Linked DNA regions of Homo sapiens. The protein of the gene in region 4 interacts with the protein of the main gene of each other region in a biochemical or structural test. Each region holds a gene or a part of one and is shown on either strand. Other genes may lie near its edges.

Evidence for each region.
Region 1: of the proteins of SENP8 (region 4) and CUL1, one has a biochemical effect on the other in vitro, tested with the Homo sapiens proteins (2 studies listed by BioGRID).
Region 2: of the proteins of SENP8 (region 4) and CUL4A, one has a biochemical effect on the other in vitro, tested with the Homo sapiens proteins (one study listed by BioGRID).
Region 3: of the proteins of SENP8 (region 4) and USP15, one has a biochemical effect on the other in vitro, tested with the Homo sapiens proteins (one large-scale study listed by BioGRID).
Region 5: of the proteins of SENP8 (region 4) and USP21, one has a biochemical effect on the other in vitro, tested with the Homo sapiens proteins (one large-scale study listed by BioGRID).

The regions. Positions count from the first base shown.
Region 1 is NC_000007.14:148,784,953-148,790,629, forward strand, and holds part of CUL1 (cullin-1), read left to right. Parts: intron 1-1,598; coding exon 1,599-1,647; intron 1,648-2,036; coding exon 2,037-2,168; intron 2,169-3,604; coding exon 3,605-3,722; intron 3,723-4,797; coding exon 4,798-4,874; intron 4,875-5,357; coding exon 5,358-5,489; intron 5,490-5,677. UniProt on the Homo sapiens protein: Core component of multiple cullin-RING-based SCF (SKP1-CUL1-F-box protein) E3 ubiquitin-protein ligase complexes, which mediate the ubiquitination of proteins involved in cell cycle progression, signal transduction and transcription.
Region 2 is NC_000013.11:113,253,474-113,259,150, forward strand, and holds part of CUL4A (cullin-4A), read left to right. Parts: intron 1-1,219; coding exon 1,220-1,325; intron 1,326-1,479; coding exon 1,480-1,652; intron 1,653-5,677. UniProt on the Homo sapiens protein: Core component of multiple cullin-RING-based E3 ubiquitin-protein ligase complexes which mediate the ubiquitination of target proteins. As a scaffold protein may contribute to catalysis through positioning of the substrate and the ubiquitin-conjugating enzyme.
Region 3 is NC_000012.12:62,384,544-62,390,220, reverse strand, and holds part of USP15 (ubiquitin carboxyl-terminal hydrolase 15), read right to left. Parts: intron 791-5,677; coding exon 707-790; intron 617-706; coding exon 522-616; intron 439-521; exon of another isoform or gene 425-438; coding exon 233-424; intron 1-232. UniProt on the Homo sapiens protein: Hydrolase that removes conjugated ubiquitin from target proteins and regulates various pathways such as the TGF-beta receptor signaling, NF-kappa-B and RNF41/NRDP1-PRKN pathways.
Region 4 is NC_000015.10:72,123,817-72,129,493, forward strand, and holds part of SENP8 (sentrin-specific protease 8), read left to right. Parts: intron 1-5,677. UniProt on the Homo sapiens protein: Protease that catalyzes two essential functions in the NEDD8 pathway: processing of full-length NEDD8 to its mature form and deconjugation of NEDD8 from targeted proteins such as cullins or p53.
Region 5 is NC_000001.11:161,158,168-161,164,476, forward strand, and holds the start of USP21 (ubiquitin carboxyl-terminal hydrolase 21), read left to right. Parts: upstream 1-1,332; 5' UTR 1,333-1,511; exon of another isoform or gene 1,512-1,533; coding exon of another isoform or gene 1,534-1,599; exon of another isoform or gene 1,600-2,198; 5' UTR 2,199-2,339; exon of another isoform or gene 2,340-2,452; coding exon of another isoform or gene 2,453-2,473; coding exon 2,474-3,073; intron 3,074-3,870; coding exon 3,871-3,930; intron 3,931-4,102; coding exon 4,103-4,223; intron 4,224-4,447; coding exon 4,448-4,559; intron 4,560-4,751; coding exon 4,752-4,907; intron 4,908-5,387; coding exon 5,388-5,452; intron 5,453-5,710; coding exon 5,711-5,814; intron 5,815-5,996; coding exon 5,997-6,083; exon of another isoform or gene 6,084-6,089; intron 6,090-6,309. Other genes in the region: UFC1 (ubiquitin-fold modifier-conjugating enzyme 1), read left to right, coding at 1-44, 245-325. UniProt on the Homo sapiens protein: Deubiquitinates histone H2A, a specific tag for epigenetic transcriptional repression, thereby acting as a coactivator.

The DNA.
Region 1 (5,677 bases), on a different chromosome or scaffold from region 4:
TCAAAACATAGTATAGCTTTCTAGGAACATAAGGATAACCCAGCAGTACCAAGTCTGATGTAATTTACTACATTAACAGAGAACCATGTACCAACTATGTGACCTTTTTGGTAAATGATGGGAAAACATTTGATGAAGGTCAATAGCTTTCTCTTAACGCAGTTTACCCAAGGCCAGTGAGAAACTCTGAGTGTTTGATTTTTTTTTCCTGTTTATTGCAATAAACAGGAGTATTTATTCCTGGTTTAATGTGTAATTTAACAATTGCGATCAGATCCTCTCCAGAAATGAGAGGGGACTTTAAATTGGAAGGCCTCTGATGACTTGGTTTCATTTTAGGGGGCTGCATGTTATGACTATGGAGATACTCCACTGGGTCTTCATTCAGTTTGTTTGACAGAACACTTAGTGTCCTTTTTTTTTTGAGACTTAGTCTTACTCTGTCGCCCATGCTGGAGTGCAGTGGCACAATCTCGGCTCACTGCAACCTCTGCCTCCTGAGTTTAAGTGATTCTCATGCCTTAGCCTCCTGAGCAGCTGGGACTACAGGCGTGCCACCACACCCGGCTAATTTTTTTTTTTTTTTTTTTTAGTAGAGACAGGGTTTCACCATGTTGGCCAGGCTCGTCTCGAACTCCTGACCTCAAGTGATCCACCCGCCTCAGCCTCCCAAAGTGCTGGGATTACAGGTGTGAGCCACCACACCTGGCCTTAGTGTCCTTTTTATCCTTTGTCTTTTCATAAATGTCCCTCGTCAAGTCTACTGATACTAGTTAAGGCCACTGATGCAGACAGAATGGCAGAGACATTTCCACAGCACCTCTTTAATGAGCGTGTGTTGGGTGAGTGGAGTCAGGGAGGCACTAAGTTAAACTGCTCCAAGGGAAGAGGAACACCCCTGACCCAAGAGTGCCAAGAATAGGGTTGGGTTTTCTGAACCAACTTTTCTAAAGTTGGAGACACCTCTTCAGAGTTTCTGTGGTGGCTGATTCGTTTTATATGAATTAGGGGGTCTTGTTTATAAAGCAGTCTTGTAGAAAAGACCTGTACAAAAATTCATCTACCTTTAATTCACCTTTGAATTATTATTTGTTCATAGAATGAATCAGTTGTTAAAGGACAATCATCTCTTGTATATACAACTACAGAGGGCAGCAGTTTAGTAGGAATTTAAACCCCTTCATCATCTTTAATGACTGGGCCATGAAAGGGAATCTATGTGCCTTTTTATTTCTCCAAAGTTAAATTACAGCAGACTAGAAAGCAATTGGTAAAGTGAATTTCCTTTACTGAAGTTTAAGTGGATTATCTTAAAGGCAAACTTCTTCAGAATGTTTTTGGAAATGTTTTATAAATATCTCCTGTTGGTTTTCACCTTGGATATTCTAAATGACTACTTCATAATCTGTTCTTCAGTGTTGAGGTTACAGTATGAGATTGCCAGTTTGCTGTAGGTAAGGAAAGTCAACCTTCCCTCTTCCTCTGCACTAATCTGATGAGAACTGATCTTTTGAATGCTTGAAGCTGCATTCTGGCTAAGTGGTGCTTGTTTAAACGTACTGATGTTTTAAAACATGGTATCTTTTTAAAATTTTCAGTTCCAAGAACCCAGAGGAGGCAGAACTAGAAGACACACTCAATCAAGTGGTAAGTGCTTCATGAGCATACCCATTTCCAGTAGCTGTGTATTTCACAAGCTGTTTGTAATGTTATTTGTAGATGGCCTCTGAAATGTGAAAAGTAATAATCATTGATTTTATTTTGAATCTCTGGTTTTACTTCCTAAATTGAGTTACTACTTTTAGCATTCATACTTTTCTCATTAATACTCAGTCAGTCCAACTCACTGAATTAAGGGACTCACAAAACTTTCAAGACTCTGGAGTGGAGATTTTGCCATCATAAACGTTGGCGTACAGACCTGCCCAAAGCCAAAGGCACATCTTGGCTCCTGGCTTGTGGCCGGTGACAGTCAGCTCTGCACTGTTGGCTTGTGTGTGTGCTGGTTAAGTGTGTTGTCTCGGTGGCTTTGCCAGATGGTTGTCTTCAAGTACATAGAAGACAAAGACGTATTTCAGAAGTTCTATGCGAAGATGCTCGCCAAGAGGCTCGTCCACCAGAACAGTGCAAGTGACGATGCCGAAGCCAGCATGATCTCCAAGTTAAAGGTGAGTTTCATCTTTTCCTGAAAAATCCCAGCTTCTGAGTCATTATTAAAACAGCTCTATGGCCGAGCGCGGTGGCTCATGCCTGTAATCCCAGCACTTTGGGAGGCCGAGGCGGGCAGATCACGAGGTCAGGAGATCGAGACCATCCTGGCTAATATGGAGAAACCCCATCTCTGCTAAAAATACAAAACATTAGCCGGGCATGGTGGTGGGCGCCTGTAGTCCCAGCTACTTGGGAGGCTGAGGCAGGAGAATGGCATGAACCCGGGAGGCAGAGGTTGCGGTGAGCCGAGATCACACCACTACACTCCAGCCTGGGCAACAGAGTGAGACTCTGTCTCAGAAAAAAATAAAAAAGCTCTTAGTCTCTCCAGGTTATGAGGCAGGCAGAGGAGTTTGTGCAGTGGTTTGTACAAGAAGCTCTGCCACTGCTCTTCTGAAAGCCTCCCACAACTATCACTCTACTCTCGTTGGGCCCCGGTGCCTTCCCAACCCCTTCCCCACCCCACTGTGGGGCTTCCATCCTACCCAGGCCTGGCTGGGCTCAGCTCACCATCTGTGGGGCCTCTCCTGCCTCCCACACCTTTAGCCTTGCAGCACATTCACACTTCCACACTGTGCTGGCCTGGAGCTGAGTGGAGGTTTTGTTTGCTCTGGGCTTGGTTACTTTGCTGTCACGCAGCCCTTCCTCTGCCACCTCCTTTGCGTGCCTGTGTGTCGGCGCTGTCGAGTGCTCTTATCTGACTTGGGACATACTTTACTTTGGCCCCAAATTATGTAGGTATCTTTGTCAGCGTGGGCTGCCATGACGGAATACCATAGACCAGGTAGCTTAAACAACAGAAATAGTTTCTCACAATTCTGGGGGCCACAAGTCCGAGATCAGGGTGCCAGCTGATTCGGTTCCTGGTGCAGGCCCTCTTCCTGCTTTGTAGGCAGCCACCTTCTTGCAGTGCCTCACGTGTCAGAGAGAGAGTGCAGAGCTCTTGCACATCTCTTACAAGCACACCAATCCCATTGTGAGGCCCCATGCTCAAGACCGCATACCTCCACACAGCATCACGTTGGAGGTTTGGGCTTCAACATAGGGATTTTGGGGGCACACAGTTCAGCTTCTGGTAAGAGATAGAGACAGATTATTTCATCATTGTATTCTACCAGTGTCAGGACACCTTGCTCTTAAATGCTCACAAATTGTGTATGAATTGTGTGTGTGAACACTTCACTGTGCAACATAGAGTTGTGGGGTTTTTTGACAGTGTATTAATATTAATCCATGCATATTTGTACTGTAAAATATAGCAAAATGTTACTAGCTTTGCTAGTAGTTCCATATAATTAAGTATATATTGTATACTCTGATTTCTCTAAGATTCCCTTGTATACATTTGTATTTTTGTACAAATTAATAAGACAGTCATCTGGGTTCTTCTCAGCAAGCTTGCGGGTTCGAGTACACCTCTAAACTTCAGCGCATGTTTCAAGACATTGGCGTGAGCAAAGATCTGAACGAGCAATTCAAAAAGCACTTGACAAACTCAGAACCCCTAGACTGTGAGTATCCGTGTGTCTCTATGTTGTGTTTACAGGCAGAGTTCTCTGTAGCAAATGAAGAAATGACAAAATATTAGGTGAAGATGGGAGGGGCTTTGTCAGAAATTCAAGAACTAAGAAGCGGGAGATTCCTCCCAAATGCCCAGCCCTCCTCCCCCGACTCCCGTGTGACATTAGGAGATGACAACCCTTGAAGTGGTGTCAGCTCTACTGGGGCAAGGTCACCACCTGTTGGGATCTGGGGAGGGACTCACAGGCGTGGTTTTGTCTTGTAAACCTTAGCTTGGATCCATTCTAGCATTTATTTTAATGTTCACTTGGCCTGCATAGGTAACAGTCAAGCTAAAGACCTGTGGCTTCAGACTGGGATTAGGGATCAGTACAGGCAGGTGCAGGTGATTCAGTTCTCCAGGAGAGGCAGCTGGGCTGGTATTTTAGGGCCTTGCATAGTAGTAGGATGGCGGATTTATGCTTACATCATCTTTTGATCATCTTTGTCTTTTTAAATGAAAAATGGAGAATTTTATTTTTCCCAAATCAGAATGACAATTCTATTGTAAAACTGGACAGTTTTGCCAGTGGGCTTTTTAACTATCTGCGAAGATGAAATTACTGTTATAATTTATAGACCATGTGTGGCGTTTCCCAGTAATAAGTGAAACATACACTATAATGAAGTTAGCGGTTTTCTCCTGCTTGTGAGTTTGCATGAGTCTGGGGCTGTGATGATGCCGGGCCTGGCAAGCACAGGCGTGGCTTGAGTGGACTGAGTGATTCAGGACAGAAAAGGAAAGCAAGGGAAGCAGGGCAGGCGTGTGACAGCAGAATTCCGAGGTGGAAGCAAAATGAAGACTCTCACTCTTTGGAAGAAAAGAGTATCTGGCTCTTGCACTTTTTGCTAATTTTAATTGAATAAAATGTTCAATTCTTAATTTTATATTCAAGCAGGATTTTTATTTAATGTGCTTTTTAATAAAGAGCAATCCACATTCATCTGAAATGATTGAATTTTTCAGTTTATAAACTAATTAATGTATTCCAGAATGTTCACTCTCCCCTCTCTTCCGTCCCACAGTGGATTTCAGCATTCAAGTGCTGAGCTCCGGGTCCTGGCCCTTCCAGCAGTCTTGTACATTTGCCTTGCCGTCAGAGGTAAGGATGGGTTTGTCTGCCATCCCATTAGTGCTAAGTGGAGGGTGGGGCAGGGCAGCCTTCACTGTGGAAGGGGACAGGCCTGCAGATGGCCTTCCTGCTGGCTGGCTGCATCACGGTGAACCATGGGGGCAACACTCAGGGAAGAGCCCTGTGCAGTGGGGCAGGTCTGGATGTCTAAAGGTGGGCTGTCTGTCCCAGCTCTACAGACATGTTTCCTTATCTTGTAAAGCAGAACCTAATTAGTTGTGTAATGAACACCTCGATGGACCTGCTGGTCTTGAAGTACAAACCTTTTTTAAGATTGTACCTTCCAGTGCTTAAAGTGCTTTACAAGAGAGGCAGACACCTGGCGTTTGTATTTTACTTTTATGTAAGCACTGACTTTGTACTGTAAGCTTGGAACAGTGGGCTTTACTTAGAAACGCTGCCTGTAGGATGTGGTGAGATCTGTATTCCATATAATGCTGTCCTTTTATCTAGTTGGAACGTAGTTATCAGCGATTCACAGCTTTCTACGCCAGCCGCCACAGTGGCCGAAAATTGACGTGGTTATATCAGTTGTCTAAAGGAGAATTGGTAACTAACTGCTTCAAAAACAGATATACTTTGCAGGTAAGATCACATTTTTATCTTAAAATTTTTCTATTCTAAATGAACATAAGGCAAATTATGGAAATCATTATCAGCTGACTCAGCAGCAGAATCTAGAATTCAGCTTCTGGTGAAATAGTGGCAGGTTTAAAGCATGGAGTTGTAAGAATCAGATGAACCAAATTCCAATTCTTTCTGGCTGGGGAGCA
Region 2 (5,677 bases), on a different chromosome or scaffold from region 4:
TGCATTACACTTCTCTGCTAAACAGAGGGCTTCAAAGTAAAATACAGTAAGATGCCACTTTTTGACTAAGAGATTTGATGAAGCCTAAAAAATAAAAAAAAATTAAAAAAAACAGACTCTTGCCCACTACTGGAAGAAGCATAAACTGTAGTGAGCTTTTGGAAGGGCAGTTTGGCATTGTGAACTTTGGCAACCCTGCTGCCGAGTTGTTGCCTTAGTTTCAACTCTAGGAACTCATCTTAATAAGACATTTTCACGGATTAATGAATGAGAATAGTGGTTGCAGTGCTGTTATTATGAGCGATTATTTAAGAGGGGAGAATGCATACAATGCACTGATCAATGAAAGGCGCTTATGAAACGGCAATTATATACACTAAGCAAAAACATAAAATTCCTATTTTGTATAGCTGTTATATTAATAATAAACTTATCTGTACATTATCAAATAAGTTATACATACCTACTTTATTATTGTAGAGAGTCATATACATGAAACCATATATTCTCTTCCTTAAGGTATTAGGAAAGTTAATTTCTATTATCCCCAGTTTTTTACCTACTTGCTGACTTTAGTTGAACTTGACCTCCACAGGGTCTGTACCAGCACCACCAACTGCAGCTCTCTCCAGGTGTGCAGGAAGGGCTTGTTATGGGCTTGTGATGAGTCTGGGCTGGGTCCGCAGAGGGGGCCACCAACTGTCACCCAAACTCTCATGTGCCTCTCGTGGGTCTGACCTGGAGGCATGTGGCAAGTTGCTGCAGCACTAACTCCTGAATAGAAAAGGAGATCATCCTGGGATATATAAGGCCAAATTGCATTCACCCCTACGTTACAGTCAGTCCCGTATAAAAGAAAGCTGGACTGTAATCCCAGTACCTGGGGAGGCCGAGGTGGGTGGATCACAAGGTCAGGAGATCGAGACCATCCTGGCTAACACAGTGGAACTCCATCTCTACTAAAAATACAAAAAATTAGCCGGGCTTGGTAGGCACCAGTAGTCCCAGCTACTCGGGAGGCTGAGGCAGGAGAATGGCATGATTCCGGGAGGTGGGGCTTGCAGTGAGCTGAGATTGTGCCACTGCACTCCAGCCTGGGTGACAGAGCGAGACTCCTTCTCAAAAAAAAAAAAGTTTGAGAGCAAAAAGAAGCTTCTTTTAATTTTTCAAAGATTGTACATGCACAGCTTCAGAGGTGTGATGAGGCCTTCTCTTCCAGGGGAAGAAGGAATTCCAGGTGTCCCTCTTCCAGACACTGGTGCTCCTCATGTTCAACGAGGGAGATGGCTTCAGCTTTGAGGAGATAAAAATGGCCACGGGGATAGGTACGAAAACTGCAGAGTGCATAGCTCCATGAGTTGTTCTTAAAGCATGTATTTGTTTTAAGATAAGACATAGACTTGGTAGCATGATTGGTTTACTGTTGTTGAGTCTCATTCGTTTAACGCCAGCCTTTGCCTGCATTTGCTTCCCATTCAGAGGATAGTGAATTGCGCAGAACGCTGCAGTCCCTGGCCTGTGGCAAAGCACGTGTGCTGATTAAAAGTCCCAAAGGAAAGGAAGTGGAAGATGGAGACAAGTTCATTTTTAATGGAGAGTTCAAGCACAAGTTGTTTAGAATAAAGATCAATCAAATTCAGATGAAGGAAACTGTATGTATAAACTTTCTCTTTTTACTTATAGGGGGTTTAGCAGGGAATCATTTGTTTTTGTAGTAATGTTTTTGGCTGTTAGAGGCCTGAAGCACATTTCTACAATAATCCAATTTCACTATGTAATGTTTATAAGAGTACTCATTTTCCTGTCGCTTTCATTAACTTCACATTCTCAGTAGGAAAGAAAATCAGAAAAAAAGCCACTTAATGTTATTCCTATTCACAAAAAAGTTGTGTGCTAAGCCAGAACTCCCCATGGTCATAGGGTTTCGAAAATTATCCACACTTTCTATGGTAATAGAATCTGATATGGTTCACTCTTGGTGTTGTACATTCTGTGGGTCTGGGTAAATGTATAATGTTATGTATCCACCATTATAGGATCATACAGGACAGTTTCATTGCCCTAAAAATTCTCTTATGTTCTGTCGCTGTATCCCTGTCTCCCTCCGAGCCCCTGGCAACCCCTGACCCTGTTACTGTCACCATAGTTTTGCCCTTTCCTGAATGCCGTACAGTTGGAGTCATAGTGTATATAGCCTTTTCAGATTGGCTTCTTTATTTATTAGAACGTATTTGAGGTTCACCGTGTCTTTTCATGACTGGGTAACTCTGCTTTTTGCACTGAAGGATTCTCCGTTGTCTGGATGCATCACAACTTATCCCTTCACCTACTGAAGGACATCTGGTTGTTTCCAAGTTTTGGTGATGATGACTAAAGCTGCTATAAACATTTCTGTGCAGGTTTTTATGTGGACTTAAGTTTTTAACTCCTTTGAGGGTGCACCTTTTATAGTGGGCAAAAGTGAGAAGGTCTATCAGTTCTTTCTCCCGAAGGTAACCACTACTGCCCTTTTTGTTTGTGGTCACAGCCTTTTTCTGTGGTGTGAGTGTATGTAAACTTTTTTTTTAGTGGGATCACTAAGCCAGGCACAGTGACATGCACCCATAGTCTCAGCTACTCGGGAGGGTCGCTTGATCCCGGGAGTTTGAGGCCAGCCTGAGCAATGCAGTGAGACCCCAAACTCTACAAAAGAAAAAACACCTGGGATCACTGTACATATGGCACCTGTCAGGGCCTTCCTGTAGCCAGTTTTCGTTGCTGATCGCAGTCTTCTCCTGGCCAGGACTTGTTGCAGGAGCACAGTGCCGGTTGTGTAGACCCACCAGGGCTGGCAGTGCCCTCGGCCACAGGCACTAACATTCCTCCACTGCCCCTCCTGAAAATAAGATTACGTTCAACACCCTGGCACAGACATTTCTGTGCACTTGTTAGATTGTTTCTTTAGTGTGATTCTTGCTCTGGAGCTGCTGGGTAAAATAATGTGTACTTGTCTTAGTTTGCTCTTTTCCAAGTTGAAGTCTGGCAGATTTCACCAGAGCACAGTGTCTGCCCCCACCTCCACCTGTCCTTCGCTCACCCTGTTCTGAGCAGCCCAAAGATAGTTTGTTGCAGTTTTCATTTTGATTTCTGATTCTTTACAGCATCTTTCTACCACTCAGTAGTTTATACAAATTATATAATCTTTCTAATGCTCAGTTTCTCATATTTAAAATAGACATACTACTACCTCAAGTTGTGAGAATTAAATGAATCGTTTAGAAAGCTCTTTGCCACACACCTGTAAGCACTTCATACATGTTGATGCTGCTCTTTTTATGCTTAGCCATTTGTATTTTTCTTTTTCTAATTGCTTTTCAAGTCATATGCATTCATTATAATGTTTTTTCTCTTACTGATTAGTAGGTTTTCTTTATATATTAAGGATATTAATGCTTTGTCCCTTTTTTTTTTTCGTTTTTTTTTTTTTTTTTTTTTTTGCATTTCACTCTGTCGTCCAGGCTGGAGTGCAGTGGTACAATCTCGCTCACTGCAACCTCCGTCCTCCGGGTTCAAGCGATTCTCCTGTCTCAGCCTCTCGAGTAGCTGGGACTACAGGCATGTGCCACCACACTCAACTAAGTTTTCTATTTTTAGTAGAGACGGGGTTTCACCATGTTGGCCAGGCTGGTCTCAAACTCCTGACCTCAGGTGAGTCACCCATCTCGGCCTCCCAAAATGCTGAGATTACAGGCGTGAGCCACCATGCCCAGCCTGCTTTGTCATTTTTGACAGATAATTTTGTTGTTTTTATTGGTTTTTTTTTCACATAACAGTTTTTAAGTTCTCAAATATAGTCTCCTTTTCTTTTATGGTTTCTGACTTAACGTGTAATGCTGTATTAGGCCATTCTTGTATTACTATAAGGAAATACCTGAAACTGGGTAATTTATAAAGAAGAGAAGTTTAATTGGCTCACGGTTCTGCAGGCTGTACAGGAAGCATGGTGCCAGCATCACCTCAGCTTCTGACGAGGCCTCAGGAAGTTTCCAGTCATGGTGGAAGGTGCAAGGGGAGCAGGTGTCTCACGTGGCAAAAGCATGAGCAAGAACAGGGAGGGAGGTGCCCCACATGTTTAAACGACCAGATCTCATCACCAAGGGGAGGGCCCAAGCCATTCATGAGGGACCTGCCCCCACCCACCCGGTCCCATCTCCAACACTGGAGACCACATTTCAGCATGAGATTTTGAGGGGACACATATTCAAAACCATATCATTGGCCTAAGAGAGAAATTCCCTTAACCAGAGTTTTAAAAAACATTTATACTATGTTATTTTTCTAGAAGTTTTTACATTTAAATCTTTCTTTTCATGTTGCAGAAATTATTTTAGTATCTGAAAACAGTCTAACTGCCCCCATCCTTTCCAAAACCAAATTTAAAATATCATCCTTGAACAAGTTATTTGAATTATCACCTTATTATGTATCAAATTCATATAGGTCAGTTTCTCAATTCTCTTCTATAAATTCTGTGTCTATTTCATAGCCAGCCATTTTTTTTGTTTTGTTTTGTTTTGTTTTTTGAGACAGTGTCGCCCAGGCTGGAGTGCAGTGGTGTGATCATAGCTCACTGCAGCCTCAACCTCTTGGGCTCAAGCGATCCTCCCACCTCAGCCCCAGGCATATGCCACCACGCCCAGCTAAATTTTTGTATTTTTTGTAGAGATGAGGCCTTGCCATGTTACCCAGGCTGGTCTTGAACTCCTGGGCTCAAGCAGTCTTCCTACCTTGACCCCCCAAAGTGCTGGGATTACAGCCGTGAGCCACCGTGCCCGGCACCAGGTTCTTTTAATTAATGTAGCTATTCCTATAACTTTATTCTTCCAATGAACTTGACAATAATTGTATCACGCCTTTGCTCCCCCAAATAAGAACATTGACATTTTTAATCCATATTGCATTAATTTACAGAGCTTTTATCTTTATCATATTAAATCTTGTGATTCATACATATGTGTATATATGTAAATACATACAAATCTTTTTCTCAGAGCTTTCTAGTTTTCTTCTGTAAGTCTTGCATATTTCTTGCTAGTCATAAATTTTCATTCATTCAACAAATACTTATTGAGCATCTGTGGTGGCCCAGGTCCTCTGTGAAGCACTGAGAATTCATCCATTAACAATAAAGAATAAGTCCTTGTTTCTAGGAGTGTTCAGTCTTTTCCAGCAGAGAGGTAGCAGAGGATCACACACATTGACTAACTTGTAAGAGTGGAGGAAAATGTTAGGATAGAGAAGTGCAGGAGAGTCTAATTAAATACTGTCGTCAGCCAACGCTTTCCTGAAGAAGTGACTAGCTTTGCTCAGGAACTGAAAGAAGGCCTCTGGCTGCAGCATCGTTGCCAAAAGGGGAAGCTGAGCCAGACAGGCCTGATCAGGGAGCCACAGCTGGACCCTCTGAAGATGGCTCAGATCCATGAAGCATTTGGAAAACCACTAGAGTTTTAAGCAAGACAGGCTAATGAAATGCTGATATCTTATAAAGGGGACCTTTTTTCTTTACATTTCTGACGGTTTTTATCAGAATGTATGTATTAATGCTATTTGTCTTTGTATATTTATTTTATTTCCAGCCACTTTACAAAACTCTTTAGCTTTGAAAGTTTTTCTGTTGATTTTCTTGGATTTTCCAGCT
Region 3 (5,677 bases), on a different chromosome or scaffold from region 4:
TGGTTTAAAACTGCTACAGACTTCGTGCTTCCTGGGTTTGAAATTACCTCCATAATATGTTTTACATGAATAAGAAAGTGGATTAGGACTATAATCTGACTATGAACAAAATTGAGATAATACAGACTTGAATAATTATATTCCAATAGTACCTTATGTGTTTATTTTTATTAGCTATTTTATATTTTATTCCCATATTTATTTTGTCAATGTAGAATTGTCTGGCACTTACCACATTCTCAAGAGCAGGAGATTATAAAGTTTGTCTTCAGTATTGTTTCGTGGTACAGCCATAAGAAAGGGCTGACCAAAAAGTGAAGAACCAGTATGGTGGGTATAACTCGAGTGTCTGAATTTTTCTCTTAGGCAAACAGGAATAATCACGTGCTCTGTATCTTCTGTCCTATTGATGTTAATTTCAAACCTACAAGGACAAAACTGACCATAAACTCTCAAAATTTTATGTTACTTCTATTAATTTTTTTTCAAGTAATATTTTGCACAATGAGTTTTATACTTACACATAAATATCATCCCGTTCCATAATACTACTAAGGTTTTCATCCATAGCGAATATTCTGTGAAATCTATGATTGTATATATCAGTAACTATCATCTAAAAGGAAACGAATTTCTATTAAGCTGGTTTTACAGCACTGAGAAACTAAATACCAACTTATATACTTCAACCCCAGAAACATCTTACCTTATCTGCAGGTATTCCTGACAAAGCAGACAATGCTGTACAAAGATCTAATATGTTTCCAATTTTGGGGACAACCACTTTGTACTAAAAAACAAAAAAAATTGTAATGAATTTATTATTTTGGAAAAAAAATTCAGTAAATGAGAGTGACCTCATGGTTGCTATCTCACATTCATTTGGCATTTGGATTAGTGTTTGTCTCCAATCTTGCCACTATCCTGGGTCCTGTGTGACAATGCCCACATGGATAATTTGTCCTAGTTTTATCATTCCTTGGCTCCTCAATTCAAAGACACTTGCATTAATTCAACCTCAGTCAACTTATTAGATCCTGTCATTACTTGAAACTGCTCCCACTTTTGCTATCTTTTTTTGTTTGTTGTTTAGAGACAGGCTCTCACTCACTCTGTTGCCCAGGCTGGAGTGCAGTGGCATGATCTTGGCTCACCGCAGCCTCAACCTCCCGGGCTCAAGCCATCTTCCGAATTCAGCCTCTTGCGTAGCTAGGACTACATGCGTGTGACACCATGACTGGCTAATTTTTATTTTTTAGAGACAAGGTCTCATTATGTTGCCCAGAATGGTCTCAAAATCCTGGATTCAAGTGACCTTCTGCCTCAGTCTCCCAAAATGCTGGGATTACAGGACTGAGCCACTGCACCCGGCCCCACTTTTAGTATCTTAAACTCGGGTTACTGTCTAACCACTACTTCTTGCTTCTCCTGGAAATTCATTCTTATCTCTTCTTGTCTTGCACAGAGATTTCTATTCCTTTTAACTCTTGTTTTCTCCCAGTTTACCAGCTCCCTACTGTCTTCTAGCCCTTCCATCCAGGCCCTACATGCTTTATCACGAACCTTTAATGTCTTTGTTACTCAATTCTATTCATTCCACTCTTGCTAAACTTTCTCAGAGCTGTTCACATGTGCTGAAGAGAATTTCCCAATTTTAGAGGCTGGTGTGCTACAAATCCACAGTGCCCAATATCAATTGATCCTTTGACAGTACTCAGAAATAATTCTGCATATCACACATGTGGTTATTCTCTCATTTATCTCAATAACTATTTAAAATCTTCATTGGGCTGGGCCCAGTGGCTCACGCCTGTAATCCCAACACTTTGGGAGGCCAAGGCAGGTGAATCGCTTAAGCCCGAAAGTTCGAGACCAGCCTGGATAACATGGCAAAACCCTGTTGCTACAAAAATACAAAAAATTAGCTGGGCTCGGAGGCGCACACCTGTAGTCCCAGCTACTTGGGAGTCTGAGGCGGGAGAATCCCTTGAGCCCAGGAGGCGGAGGTTGCAGTGAGCTGAGATCACACCCTAATGTACTCCAACTTGGGTGACAGAGCAAGACCCTGTCTCATTAACAAAAAAAAAAAAAAAAAAAAAAAAATCTTCACCATTCTTTAGGCTTCCTATTTCACTACTGCTCCCTTAATATCAGCAGAATACCTATTTCATCTCAAAAACAGAAACTACTGGGTGGGAAAATCTCCAACTTCCTGTTCTACTAACTTCTTTGAATCCACATAGGTACTTTTCTGTCTCTTGCAACACATGGAAAGAAAGATGTCTCTCTTCTTATTCAAAGCTAACCTTAGCGTCTATGTTCTAAATCCCATGCTCTTCTGCTTTCTCTGGGACCTAAACCAAGCAATTATTCTTTCTTCCATTTTATCTCAACTCTTGCATAAGCATTGGAATATAAAGTCTCTCAAAAAACAAGGGTACCTCATTGCTTTCCCTCTAATTATCTCCCCTTCTCCTCTATTTTATAAATAACTTTATTAATGATATCTATATTATCATAACTTCCTTATCTCCCATTTACTTCTCAACCCTCTTGCTGGCTTGTCTTCGCCTCTTTATTTAACTTGTTTCCAAGGTTGCCAATAATGTTGTACAACTTATCAGTCTTTATTTTATTGACCTCTTTGTAATATGACTGCTGACCACTTTCTCCTTAAAAAATTCCCTTTCCTTATAACACGACTACTTTTAATTCTTTTCTATTGCTGTGATCATATTCCTCTTTTGAAGTTCTCCTACATTGTTCTTTAGAGTGTTGTCTTTAGCCTTCTTCTCAATTTTATATGCTCTCCTTGGAAGAGGCAACAGTGTCTCCTGATTTGCTTTGGCCAGTCCTGGATTAGCCTGCTATCCTAGTATAATTATTAATGACAGTCCCTTCTATTTTCAAGAGTTCTTGTTTAGATGATAAATCACGGGGTCACCTTAGCCTTAAGTAATCTCATCCTTCTAAAACACTATCATTTTCATAGAGCTGATTGTCCAATTTATAGCTAAAGCAGTCTCTCTCCTTTGGTCTAGATACACAAATTCAATGCCTACTGGATATCTCTACCTAAGTGTTCCTCATGCATCTGTAAGTCAGCATATCCAATACTAAACACAGGTTTGGGTCATGTTAGGCCACCACGTTCAATACTAAAATGGATTCCTTCTTCAACTTGTTCTTCCTATATATTCCACTAAAACAGCACTGCTGTCTCCTCTTTTCCTGTCAAGTAAACTTGGCATCATCTTTGAATATACTTACACATTTTCACTTCCTACATTCAACTGGTTCTTCAAACTGCCATCCTGACAGAGTTGAAGTGTTTGTCATTTGTCTGTCGTCTGATCATTAAAAGCTTCTTACCTGGTCTTAGTACTAAGCCTTTTCTAACTGATCTCTGTGCTACCCAGAATCATCTTTCTGAAACATAATTGTGGCCATATAATATCTATACTTAATAGTCTTTAATGGCTTCCCTAGTTTTTAGGATGAAGTTCAAACTTCCTATACTGGCATCAAAGTTCTTCGTGATCTAGCTCCTGCTTGCCATATTAACTACTGTAGATTACAGAAGTGGGCCATGTCCTCTTCTCCCATAAGTTCTTTGTACATGCCATTATCTTGGCCTATAATGCTTTTATTTCTAGTTTTCACCTGCTTATAACCTAATTGTCCTTCAGAATTTATCACAGGCCTCATAACCAGTTTGGGTAGGTTACTCTGTGTTCTCTTGCAGCACCCTGTCAGAGCAATTTTCACACTGTATGACAAGCTTCTTGAAGAACAAGGACTAGAAACACCATTATATTTCTAGCACCTTGCACAGCATAAGAGCCTAAGATATAATATATATTCAATATTTTTCCTAATAAGCTTCCATGACCTAAATCAACTTCAATGACGGGAAAACTCAACAAATAGGGAAACTCAGCTAATTTCACTTTTCTTACAAGCTGGTCAAAGCATAGTGTTAATGAAATGAGGTGATCATTTTGTATTTGAGTTGTTACTGCCTCTAAATGGAAAAAAGGAAAAAAAAAAAACACAAAACACAAAAACAAACGAATTTCTCTGTGCTAACCATGGCTCTAACCTCCGCAAATTTATATTATTGGTCACCAAATGAGAAAAGTGATAAGTCAATGAAATTCACATTGCTGGAAAAATAATTTAGAGCCCAATTTATGGAAGAGCACTTATCATATACCTTATGGACTAATGTGTAAATTAATGCAATTTGCCACTATTGATATAGATTACCTTATATTATTGGCATGGGAGAATATTATCTCTAACAAATGTGCTGTAGAGAAATAAAACATCTACATTTATTTTTTGTTGCAGTAAATTTATACTTATTATTCTACGCTCTCTTGCTCCATTACACTCATTGGTGTATATCTGCAAAGTTATAAACTAGAGAGGTAAGGATGTGGTTTGGCACTGTTATAGTTTCTCACCATTGAAAAGAATGTTGACAATCTTGTACTTATAAACGAGTGAATAAGTGAATATCTAAAGGATATAACTTTAAAAATGTGAACACATATTCCCCAGGCCAAAAGTAAAAGCAGGTCTTTATTGGCTCTGCTCACAGATAAGGGATAGTACTTAGCACTCTCCAGTGAAATACTGATATGAGGGCATTGTGTTCAATGAGTTCATAAAGAAAACATAAAGCAGCAGAAAAACAAATTGCTTAAATTTGCATAACTGAGTACATACCTAGTATCTACTAGACTTTAATTACTTTGAATAAAAGGACTGTGTGTTTATGAACACTACATATACCCTGTCTTTGTTGACAATAAACCCAAATACATCCCTGAATGGTAAGATCATAATTTTGTTCAAATATAGCTTTCATATAGACATCGTGACTATTATGCACTAACAAACTGAGCTATTTGGCTAAAAATTTACAGAAAACAATCTTCTAAAGCAGGAATCATATCTTTTTTGTTTAGCCAAAGAGCTTTATACTTAGTAGGTGCATAGTTAAGTATCTTGATGAATAAAATTTTTGAATACTTCTTGTGCATTAATATTTACCAGCCACAAAAGCTGGAAATACAAAGGTTTACAAGGTCTCTGTCTTCAAAGACTTGTAGTCTAGGGATAAAAGATAAAAGTAAGCCAAAAGTTATAACAAAATTAGTTAAGTGTTAGAATTTAGGGAAAGAGAGGTAGAAAAAGAAGAAGTTACTTTCACTGGGATGGGTCAAGTGTCAGAAGAGGATTAACTGATTAATAAATAAGGGAGAAAAGATAGTGCTTTACCCACAAAATATAAATAATCCAATTATAACACTAGGTAACGGAATCAGGCAGACAATTTGACAGTAAGACTTACCACAGGACTTTTGCACAGAATAAACAATATGTGATACTTCAAAGTATTAGAAATTAGAGAACATCACTGAACAAAATATTTTTAGTCTAACTGAATTTCTACTTTCTTTTAAGTTCCTAAAATGCCTAAAAATTACAGGTATTTAAATACACTACTATCACACTATGAATTAAAAGTATTAGCTTTACTTCCAATAGCCACTAGTAAAAAAAAATTACAATTAACACTAAAGAAAGTTGAAGTTTAAAAAAATTAAAAATATTATGTTGATCTTCATAAGCTAATATTCACCCCAATATTATAAAAATAAACCTC
Region 4 (5,677 bases):
GGCATGAGCCACCGCACCCAGCCTACAAATGGAACTCTTGAGGTAGAAATGGTAGACCAGGAATAAAATTATTTTCATGGTCAATGACACCTTAGCCATTGATAGCTGTGCCTAGTTACAGAGCAATAAATGGAGAGCCTTGGTGTTAGATGAAATCCTAAAAAGTCACCTGTTTTATCTCCTTGGCCCCAGACAGAATAAAGTGGAATTTATAGCAGTAGAGTTACCAAGCATCATCATCACACCAAGTAGGTTTTGTACTTTGAGAGCTGAATTCCTCTCTGAAATATTGATGTTACAGGAATGTTGTTTAAATTCATAGCTCATTTATAAAATTGAGAATATTTCTTACATTTATAACTGTGTTGTGTTTTCCTGAGTTTTTCAAGATATGTTTCACTTCTGTACTTTGCTCACTCAGGAAAAATATTTATTTATTAAAACTCTAGCTTGTCAGGCACTGAAGTTAGAAGGATGAGTAAAATCTAATCTGTGTACTCAAGAGGGTTATATAATAAATCTTGATGGTCATTCTTACATGCCACATTATACAGATCTCCAGATGGCTTAGGCTTAGTTTTAAAAGGAAACGTTTTAATTGGGGGGAAATTGAAACCCCAAAAAAAAGCCATGAACTTCCTTCCTGGAAATATTTTTGCCATAAAAAGCATATTTGGTCTTGGATGTGATTCTTTTTGTGAAAGTGCAAGTTGAATCAGACATTAGAAGTTGGACATAATCTTCTAATTTTAGTAAACATCAAATTATTTTTAAATATTTGTGTTTGAACATTTATGGAAAAGAGATTAGATTTACCTGTTTTATCCAGAGGACAGAAGTAAGACTCAGAAGTTGAAAAAATGGAAATATTTTATGTCATTATAAGAGTGGGAACTGGTACATCTTTTATTCCTCTTCAATATGGAAATCACTGTATTTACTAATTATGTGTTCATTATTAAAAAAGGGGGAAAAATTAAAGCACAATATCAAAAGGTAGAAGGAAAAAGGCAAAAAAGTATTAATCCTATTTCTTAAAATGATATTTACACTTGATGGATATCGTTCTTGATTATTTTTCTGTATATTTTTATCATATACAGATGTTTATATCAAAGCATATTATGAACATTTTTCTTTTAATAAATTTGTATTGACAATATTATATTTAATGGCTGAAAACTATTCCATCGTGTGGAAACCCTGTTGTTTAATTTACCAGTCCTTTTTTGAACTCCAGATTGTTTCCAGTTTTTCTGTTACAAATACTGCCATGGTGAATATCTTGTTGAATTTTTGCACACATTGTTAATGTCTCCCTTAAGTTAAATTTCTTAAAGTATAATACCTACATATATAAATTTCTTAAGAATTCCAATATAATGGCAAATTACCCTTGAAAAAGCTTGCATGTATGACAGTCCTATCAAAATGGGGCATCATTTACTCATTTCCCATAATCTCTCAGCAATGCTAATTATTATTAGTTTTCTTCACCTTTGCTAACTTGACAGGTAAAAAAATGAAATTTTATTTTAACTTACATTTATTTGATTACTACTCTGATGTCCAGTGTCTTTTCATGTGTTTATTGACTAGTCATGTAAGTGTATTAACTAATATTTTCTAACAATTTTTTTTTTACTTTTTAACATTTAAATTTGTATTCTATCTAAAATATAATTTGATGTAAGGTATGAGGTAAAACTCTTTACTTTTTTAATCAAATAATTAACAAGTTGTGCCAATGCTACTTATTAAAAAATCCAGCAAGCATATCCCATACTTCAATATACAGATAATAAAGTACTGATAGATATTCCTCCAAAAAAAAGAAAGACTATTTCGTGGTTAAATAAGTTTGGGAAAAGATCATACGAAAAAAAGTTAAAATTTTTTATCGCCAAACTCTCGTTAGCCTCTAGTGTGTGTGTGTGCATTAGGAGTTAGCATTTCCTAATTTAATTAACCATGTAATCTTTTTTCTTTTTTATTTATTTATTTATTTTATTTATTTATTTTTTTGAGATGGAGTCTCACTCTGTCGCCCAGGCTGTAGTGCAGTGGGGTGATCTCGGCTCACTGCAACCTCTGCCTCCCAGGTTCAAGCAATTCTCCTGCCTCTACCTCCCAAGTAACTGAGATTACAAGTATGCACTACCATATCCAACTTGTTTTGTATTTTCAGTAGAGATGGGGTTTTGCCATATTGGCCAGGCGGGTCTCAAGCTCCTGACCTCAGGTGATCTGCCTGCCTTAGCCTCCCAAAGTGCTGGGATTACAGGTGTGAGCTATTTTTTTTAACCATGTAATCTCACTTCATAGGTATTTCAGGAAATACCTATGAAAGCCTGTGGAACTGAGCTGTCCAGTATACTAGCACTAGCCACATGTGGCTATTTAAATTTTAGTTAATTAAAATTACTCAGTTCTTCAGTCACACTGACCATATTTCAAGAACTCAATAGCCACAAGGGGCTAGTGGCTACTGTATTGAACATTTTGCAGATAAAAGAAAATTTCCGGGCCAGGCACAGTGGCTGATGCCTGTAATCCCAGCACGCTGAGAGGCCGAGGTGGGTGGATCACAAGGTCAGGAATTCAAGACCAGCCTGGCCAAGCTGGTGAAACCCTGTCTCTACTAAAAAACTACAAAAAATTAGCCAGGCACAGTGGCAGTTGCCTGTAATCCCAGCTACTCGGGAGGCTGAAGCAGGAGAATCGCTTGAACCCAGGCAGCAGAGGTTGCAGTGAGCCGAGATTGCGCCACTACACTCCAGCCGGGGCGACGGAGTGAGACTCCATCTCAAAAAATAGGAAAATTTCCGTCACAAGAAGTGCTATTGGACAGCACTGCTATGGGAACATAATGTTCAGTGGAACACGTGAACACGCTGAAAACACTGGAATAATCCATAATTTCTCCTGATTTGTCAGGCAAACATGATTACTACTACACTATGAGAACAGACTCTCTCATTGATTTGTAAAGACTCCATCATCATATTTAAAATTTCTAATCTACATATGATTTTTTTATGCTATTGATTTATCTACTTCTGCTCCAATACCACACCCCTAGTTTTAAGTCAAGGTTCTGCACCTTTCTCTTTCAGAGCAGAAATGAAGAATTCTTGCATGGAGTAGGAAATTAGATTAGAAGTGATAGTAAAGGCGCTTTCACTTCCCAGACTCTAAATGTAAACATTTCTCTGCCGAACTTGATTTATATTATGTTGAGCTGTATACTCAATTACTTATTCATTTATTCTACAATTATTTATTGAGTACCTGCCTGGTAAGCACTGTTTTAGGTCCTGGGGTTAAAATGGCAAACAAGGCAGACAAGGCCCCTCGTCGTCTTATTTTCATAGAGCTTACATTCTTGTTTTGGAGAGGGAAAGAGAAGAGGCAGGGGGAGGAAAAAAGAATATGAACCAATAAACAAATAAATTAAAAAACTATCACATAGTAATCAGTGCTATTCAAGGAATTGAAATTAGAGTGATAGTAACTGGTGGCCTCTTTGTTTTGGCTGCCCTGAGACCTCTGTGACTTAGTGGCATTTAAACTAAGATCTGTCCAAAGAAGAAGCTAATTACTAGAAGGTCCAGGCAGAGCTAGTACCACCCTCAGGAGGGAAAAAGCTTGGTGTATTTGAGGAGTAAAAAGAAAGTCTTTGTGGCTGGGTCTTAGTGGGCAAGCAGGGAAATAATAGGAGATAAGGTTGGAGAAATAGCTGAAGCCACATTTTCATGTAGGGTTTTGTAAACTAGGGTAGGGAATTTTCATTTTTTTCTGAGTATGATAGCTACTAGAGACTCCTAAGCAGGGAACAGACCTGGCCTAATTTAAATTTTTAAACAATTATTTTGATGGAGAATTTATTGGCACAGTCAGTAGTGGAAATAGGAGACCTGTTAGGCTAGGTCAAGAAAGAAATGGTGATAGATTTGACTAAGGTGATAGTAGTGAAGATGGAAAGCATTGGACAGATTTAGAACATTTAGGCTATAGAATCAACAGGACTTGTCAATTGGATGTGAAGTGTGAAGACAATAGAAAACTCTGGGATGAGCCTGGGCAACATAGTGAGACCCTGCCTCTATAAAAAAAAATATTAATTAGCCAGACATGGTGGTATGCACGTATAGTGCATATAGCTACTTGGAAGGCCAAGGTGGGAGGATCACTTGAGCCCATCAGTTAAAGGCTGCAGTGAGCTATGATTGCACCACTGCACTCCATCCTGGGCAACAGAGTGAGACGTTTTCAAAGAAAGAGAGAGGGAAAGGGGAGAGGGGAGAGAGGGAGGGGAGGGGAAGAAGAAAAAACAGAGAGAGAGAGAAAGAAAAAAACTAACTCTTGGATGATGTCTGTAATCCATTATATAGTAACCAGGTTCAATTTTCAGTCTGATTATGGCAGGCAAAATTGGGACACATAAGACACCAATAAATATATTTTAACCAAATGAATAAATTTACTTTAATAAATGTTTCTCTCCTGTACACATTTAAGCTGCTAAAGCATAAGCTTGTGCTCATTCCTTTATTATTAGGGAATCTGACTCCTAAGAATTTGAGGTTTATGTCATAAACACATCAGCTATAGGTAATTATTAGACTGTTCCCCTGAAGTATCCAAGCCAACAGAGGAGACTGAATGAAACAGAAAAAATTGCCTGCCACAGTTGCAAAAGTTCTGTGAGATTCTCATATTTTATTTTTAAATTTCATGCTGATTTTGCATTTTATGCCCAAGTTTATGTTAATAATTAAAATATTTTTAGTTGCTGATTTAAATGTTTTAAGTCAATGATTAAGTGGTTTAGCTCTTTCCCCTAAAGTTGGTCAAATTAAAGCTCTAGGAAGATGCCCTGTGATTAACTTGTGTTTGTTTTTTGGACTTTCTTTGTTGCTATCTGCTGGCACATGGGCATGTATCCATTTAGAGAAGTACAGATGCATCTCTGAGCATTTGTAGTTTGGTACAACTTAAAATCGTAGCCAAAGCGAGTGAGGAAGGCAATAGCATTTAGAAACAACTGACTTTTATAATCTGCACTTACTTTGTAATGTTTTTAAAAAACATACCTGAATGAGGCTGTTTCTCTCTTTTTATTTTTTTAAGGAATGCTTACTGAATAATTAGAAAAAAATGAGTAAAGGTCACAATTCTGGAATAGTATGTTTTCAGTAAAACAGATTTATCTGGAGTACTACTTAAGTCAATAGCCAACAGGCTTATTTTCCCTGAAGTTTTGAGAATTGCTGTATGCCATATAAAATCCTTGTTAATTTAAAACTCTAATACATATTTTAATCCCATAAAATAAATACTTATACATCTATAAAATAGACAATTATCGTTAATATCCATTGTAAATTAGTATTTTTAAGCATTTCCATTCATTAAAAATCCAGATTGAGTCCAGGTGAGGTAGCTCACGCCTATCAACCCAGCACTTTGGGAGGGCTAGACAGGAGGATCACTGGAGCCAAGGAGTTCAAGACGGCCTGGGCAGCATAATGAGACCTCATCTCTACAAATTTTTTTTTTTTTGAGACAGTTTCGCTGTTGTTGCCCAGGCTGGAGTGCAATGGTGCCATTTCGGCTCACTGCAGCCTCCGCCTCCTGGGTTCAAGCGATTCTCCTGCCTCAGCCTCCCGAGTAG
Region 5 (6,309 bases), on a different chromosome or scaffold from region 4:
GGAATGTGCCCAAATTTGGACTAGCTCATCTCATGGCTCTGGGGGTAAGTTTTGTGTATTTGGCATAAAAGGAGAAAGAGGGACTTAGGCCCTGAGCAGTACAAGAAAAGCAGCTAAGAATAAAAGGAATAACAGTGATGTCCCTTAAGCATGTTCCCCCAGAATCTGTCTCCAGGAAGGAGCTTCTAATGGAACAAGAAGCATTGACTGGTAGTAATCTCACAGGATTTTCCTTGTATTGCAGCTGGGTCCATGGCTGGCAGTGGAAATCCCTGATCTGATTCAGAAGGGCGTCATCCAACACAAAGAGAAATGCAACCAATGAAGAATCAAGCCACTGAGGCAGGGCAGAGGGACCTTTGATAGGCTACGATACTATTTTCCTGTGCATCACACTTAACTCATCTAACTGCTTCCCCGGACACCCTCCACCTCTAGTTGTTACTAAGTAGCTGCAGTAGGCATTGCTGGGGAAGAAACAAACACACACCAAACAGTACTGCTACTTAGTTTCTAAGGCTGCACAGGGAAGGGAAAGACTGGGCTTTGGACAATCTAGAGGTAATTTATATCCGCCCCCAGGTGGAGCAACATGCGATTCTGGAGGCACGGGGGTAACTGAAAGTGAGTACATATAGTCTTTCTGGTTTCTGGAGATAACCCATCAATAAAAGCTGCTTCCTCTGGTAGCCTGTGGTTCTCATTGGGAGCTGTTAACAGAGGGCAAGTGGGCTGAAACCTGAGGCACATGAACAGCTACGCCGGGTTGGGTTGGGAAAGAGTCGGAAATAGGGGATGCTCTGGTCAGGAGTGGGAATGAAATGTTGACTGTTCCCCCTGCTGCTCAGATCTACCTTTGTCCTTTAGTGGTGAGCCATGCTTTGCCCTACCGTGTTAGCCTGCAAGAAGTGGTTTTGCCGGACCAGCACTTCCCGCCCTCCAGGGATCTTCCCAGCCCTCTGTGAAGTGCTAGATGCTTCTCCACTGGTCTGCGGGCTGGACCCAGGCCTGCAGTTTGCCATACTTGCGCCCCTGCTGTTTGGGAAGGATCTGTGCTGTAAGCCTCGCGGCCATACTACGACTGTCAGATCTCCATCCCTATGGGCTATAGGATGGGGCGACGGCACCCTATACCTCAGGGACTTGCTTTGGAGTCATGGATTAAAGACCTCTCTGGGCAGCGTTGAGAACCAGCGACCCTAAACTTGGCTGCGTTTCCATGGTGTCGATCGCGGAGCCGTGGGGGCGGGCTCACGCAAGCGCCAAGGGACCGGTGGGAGGAGTTCGGGTGTGGATGCGCAGGCGCTTTGAGAGACGGTGAAGCCGGTGGCCGGTGGCCGGGCGGGACCAACAAAGATGGCGGCGGCCCCTGCGGCGGGAGCGATCTGGGCAACGGCTGCGGCTAAAGCTGCAGCCGGGCCCACGGGGGGGCTGCACGGGGGTAGTAGGGGGTGGCCCTGAACTGGGGCCTGGCCCTGGCTGGCCTCTCCCGCCGCCTCACTGGGGGACAGGTACGGGCCGGGGCGTTATGGCATGGCGGGGTGTGGGGGGGCGCAGAGGGAAGACTGCTCCAGACCCGAGAGGACACTCTCCACAAAGGCGCGTGGGGCCCGGCGGGGCCTGGGAGAACTGGGCTGGAGGGACAGCATCCCTGGACCGCGGGGAATACGCCGCCGGATTCCGTAGCCAATCAGCGGTCTCGGCCTTTCTGCCCTCGAGGGGGGCGGACCCGGCTAAAGCCCTGCTGTGGTGGGAGAAGTGCAGAGATTAAGGGTCAAGGAGTTGTTCGTCCTCCATCCCCGACTACTGCTTTCTGAACCTCGACACCATGTCGGAGGTCGGAGGTGGGGGAGGGAATGGATCGTAAGTCACCCATATAGTCTGCTTCATTTGCAGCCCAGAGAGGCAGGGATTCGAGGATGGAGGGCTGTCTTTTGGGCTGTTATTCTTGCATCTACACTACCATTTGGCTAGGGTCTTAAGTGACCCGAGGCACATCCTACTTTACTAGCCGGGTATGGGGTCCCATGTTACGTTAGAGCCGAGATAGGAGTTATCACTGGCTTTTCAGTAAAGATGTGTTCTGCAGGGAGGGGTCGGGAGTATAGAAAGGGTCAAAGCCATGGGCTGCTTATCTTTCATTCATTTGTTTACCCAATAGATACTAAGTATTTACTTTGTACCAAACACGATGCCAGGTACTGGGGATACGATGGCTGATTCGATAGATCTGGTTCCTGCCCTCAGTGCGTATACTGCTCCCCACTTTCGTTGATGTGGTAGTGGTGATGACTGAGCCAACCACCTAATGTGGAAATGAGAGGACAGCAAGATTGTGGGTATGGAATGGGGCAAAGCAATAAGGGAAAATTAGTGTGGCAGGGTTCAGTACAGCAGCCTGGGTTCCCATTTCCCCCCATATTCAAATGCTGACACTCTCTTCTCCTCCCAGGTCCAGCCTGTGGTGTCCACAATGCCCCAGGCCTCTGAGCACCGCCTGGGCCGTACCCGAGAGCCACCTGTTAATATCCAGCCCCGAGTGGGATCCAAGCTACCATTTGCCCCCAGGGCCCGCAGCAAGGAGCGCAGAAACCCAGCCTCTGGGCCAAACCCCATGTTACGACCTCTGCCTCCCCGGCCAGGTCTGCCTGATGAACGGCTCAAGAAACTGGAGCTGGGACGGGGACGGACCTCAGGCCCTCGTCCCAGAGGCCCCCTTCGAGCAGATCATGGGGTTCCCCTGCCTGGCTCACCACCCCCAACAGTGGCTTTGCCTCTCCCATCTCGGACCAACTTAGCCCGTTCCAAGTCTGTGAGCAGTGGGGACTTGCGTCCAATGGGGATTGCCTTGGGAGGGCACCGTGGCACCGGAGAGCTTGGGGCTGCACTGAGCCGCTTGGCCCTCCGGCCTGAGCCACCCACTTTGAGACGTAGCACTTCTCTCCGCCGCCTAGGGGGCTTTCCTGGACCCCCTACCCTGTTCAGCATACGGACAGAGCCCCCTGCTTCCCATGGCTCCTTCCACATGATATCCGCCCGGTCCTCTGAGCCTTTCTACTCTGATGACAAGATGGTGAGGACTTGCCACACACATGGCCTTCATGCCCATGTTCCTCTGTGCTTTCCTGCCATCCTCTGCCTTTTCTGTCCCCCATTTCCCTGAAGTTCCTTTCTCAGCCCTTCATTACAGCAGTTTGGACATGCCTCTCCCTTGCTTAAATACCCTTGAGCCTCCTAGACCCTTTTTTGGGTTGTTGGTGACTCTTCAGCATGGTGTGCCATTTCGGTCCCCAGGGGATTACCCCAACTATTTAGAATTCTTCTTTGGGTCCCCAGGCCCTTCCTTTCCCTTGCTTGCACCTTCTCTACTGGGACTCTGCCTAGGCCTAATTAATCTCTGGAGCTAAAGAGAGGCAGGCACAGAACATCTTAGCAAACGTGGTTGCACATTTTCTGAGCTAAGTAAGCTAGGCTGATTGCAATTGGAGCCAGCAGGAGAAGGGCAAGAAGGGGCCACGGGGGCAGGAGGGGGTTTTGGGGGCAGAAAGGTGGGAGTGGTGAGCAGCTGGGCAACCATGCCGGTGCTGGGGGAGTTGCCCCAGGAGCTGCAACGTCAGCTAGCTGAGCAGAGGAGTAAGTGGGCAACAGGTGGGACAGCCATGGCTGAGTCCGTGGTACATTCAGCTGTGATGGGCTTACTGCTCATGACCAGTGAGGTAGGGAGACTAGAATACCTAGTGAGGGGAATAGGGTAGAGTTTGGGGATGAAACATGCATGGGATGGGGGAGGCAGTGGGCAGCATGCTGTTGAAAGGTTAAAGTGCCAGGTAGGATATATAGGAACTTGCCGATTGTACTCTGACCTTCCAGGCTCATCACACACTCCTTCTGGGCTCTGGTCATGTTGGCCTTCGAAACCTGGGAAACACGGTGAGAGCTATTCTCCTATCTTTCCTCTCTAAAAGGAATGTGAAATGGTGCTGGGGGTGGGGAAAACCCACGAGCTTGGGGAAGGCATGTGGAAGGAGAGCTCTGAAGCTCTTCTAAGGCTTCCTGGGCAGTGGTCTGGAGAGATAACAGCAGTGTCCCTACTGCTCCCCAGTGCTTCCTGAATGCTGTGCTGCAGTGTCTGAGCAGCACTCGACCTCTTCGGGACTTCTGTCTGAGAAGGGACTTCCGGCAAGAGGTGCCTGGAGGAGGCCGAGCCCAAGAGCTCACTGAAGGTGGGGCAACAACTCCTGCTCCCTCTGTTCAAGTCCCTTTTTCCCCAACCACTTGCAGGTCCATCTGCCACTGGTGGTGGCCCCCAACCCTTAAATCTGGCAGTTGTATCTACTTTTCCCAGTGCCTACTTTCCTAAAGGTTATTTTCTACCCTCTGAGCCACCTTTTGCTTGCCTCTTCCAGACATTAACCTTTGTTTGCCTTCCCCACTCCCATCCCAACAGCCTTTGCAGATGTGATTGGTGCCCTCTGGCACCCTGACTCCTGCGAAGCTGTGAATCCTACTCGATTCCGAGCTGTCTTCCAGAAATATGTTCCCTCCTTCTCTGGATACAGGTGGGAGAGCTGGAGGCTATGGGATTTCTCTCTGGCCATGTCTGGGGGTAGGGCCAAGCAAGGGCCCTGGCAGCATTGTTCTGAGCCTTGAGATGTTCTTCATCCAGGAAGTGGGGACCAATATCTGGGCAGGGAATAGTGTCTGTGGACTAGGAGAGGAGTCAGTTGCCCATACTCTTTGTCTGGCTGTAGCCAGCAGGATGCCCAAGAGTTCCTGAAGCTCCTCATGGAGCGGCTACACCTTGAAATCAACCGCCGAGGCCGCCGGGCTCCACCGATACTTGCCAATGGTCCAGTTCCCTCTCCACCCCGCCGAGGAGGGGCTCTGCTAGAAGAACCTGAGTTAAGGTAAGGGTCGTTCCCTCTACCTCCTTTCCCCGTAGTTTATCAGCATCATTCACACTTCATAGAACTAAACTAGTAAAGATTGAAGATGTAGGGTCCAGGGAAACCCTTTAGTATAGAAAATAGTATGAGAAGCAACATAGAAGTAGAAGGAAGGAAGGAAGAGGGGGAGTCTAAGGGAGCAGATGGAGGCAGAAGATCATGCTAGGGATGTCACCAAATTGAAGAAGGGGATAATTCATTTACAGGTAGAGGAAGACAGCATATTCTTCCCTTATGTACATTCCTTTCTTTTCCTCTCACCTCGGATTTCCCTAGAAAGTTCATTGAGGCATTATTCTTTTGACTTTTCCTTGAAATTTAGGGAAGGAGCAGGGGTGTGGATGGGGAGTAGGGCTCTGTAGGTTGTTTCAGTGGGTGTTGGGGGTGCCCAGTGTTCCTGCTGTCTCATGGGTGCTCCCCACTTCCTTTGATCTGTGGTAGTGATGATGACCGAGCCAACCTAATGTGGAAACGTTACCTGGAGCGAGAGGACAGCAAGATTGTGGGTATGGAATGGGGCAAAGCAATGAGGGAAAATTAGTGTGTGAGGGGGGTACAGGCTTGGGGGGAAAAATCGATACTATCAAGGGGTATGGGAACAAGACTGGATGATGCAAATGTGAAGCTGTGTGAAGAGTTGATTAGGAGTGTTGGTAGTGGGAAAGGAAGGGTCAAGCAAAGGGGCAGGAAGAGATGGAAATCCAAGAAATCATCTCATAACATCCAACAATGACCTTTTCTCCTGTCCCTGTGCTTCTGTCTAGACCTGTTTGTGGGCCAGTTGAAAAGTTGTCTCAAGTGCCAGGCCTGTGGGTATCGCTCCACGACCTTCGAGGTTTTTTGTGACCTGTCCCTGCCCATCCCCAAGGTGGGATTCCAGAGGATTCCGGGGTGGACAGGACAGGGGCTCTGTGACCCAAGCCTACCCACCCCCAGAGTGTGGGCGGGAACCCTGTGGGTTTCTGGAGCAGAACTGAAGCCTGGATTGATTGAGAAGAGTTGGAAAAGGAAATTCAGAACATGTTGACCTTTCTTCCCCTTTTCCCCCAGAAAGGATTTGCTGGGGGCAAGGTGTCTCTGCGGGATTGTTTCAACCTTTTCACTAAGGAAGAAGAGCTAGAGTCGGAGAATGCCCCAGTATGTGGAGGTTCACAAGGGATACAGTAAGGGTGGGAGACCTGGGGGGACTCCATGTGGATAAAAGGGATTGCATGATGTCTTCATATGGGGAATAATATTTATGTATCTGGGTTTGTGTTGGAGTCTCAGATCTGTTCTAGTACTCCTAGAGCAAAGGGGAGAAGCCAAGAGGATCCAGCTGTAATGAAGAGCATACTAAATTTGTATGTGGATCGGGGTGTCA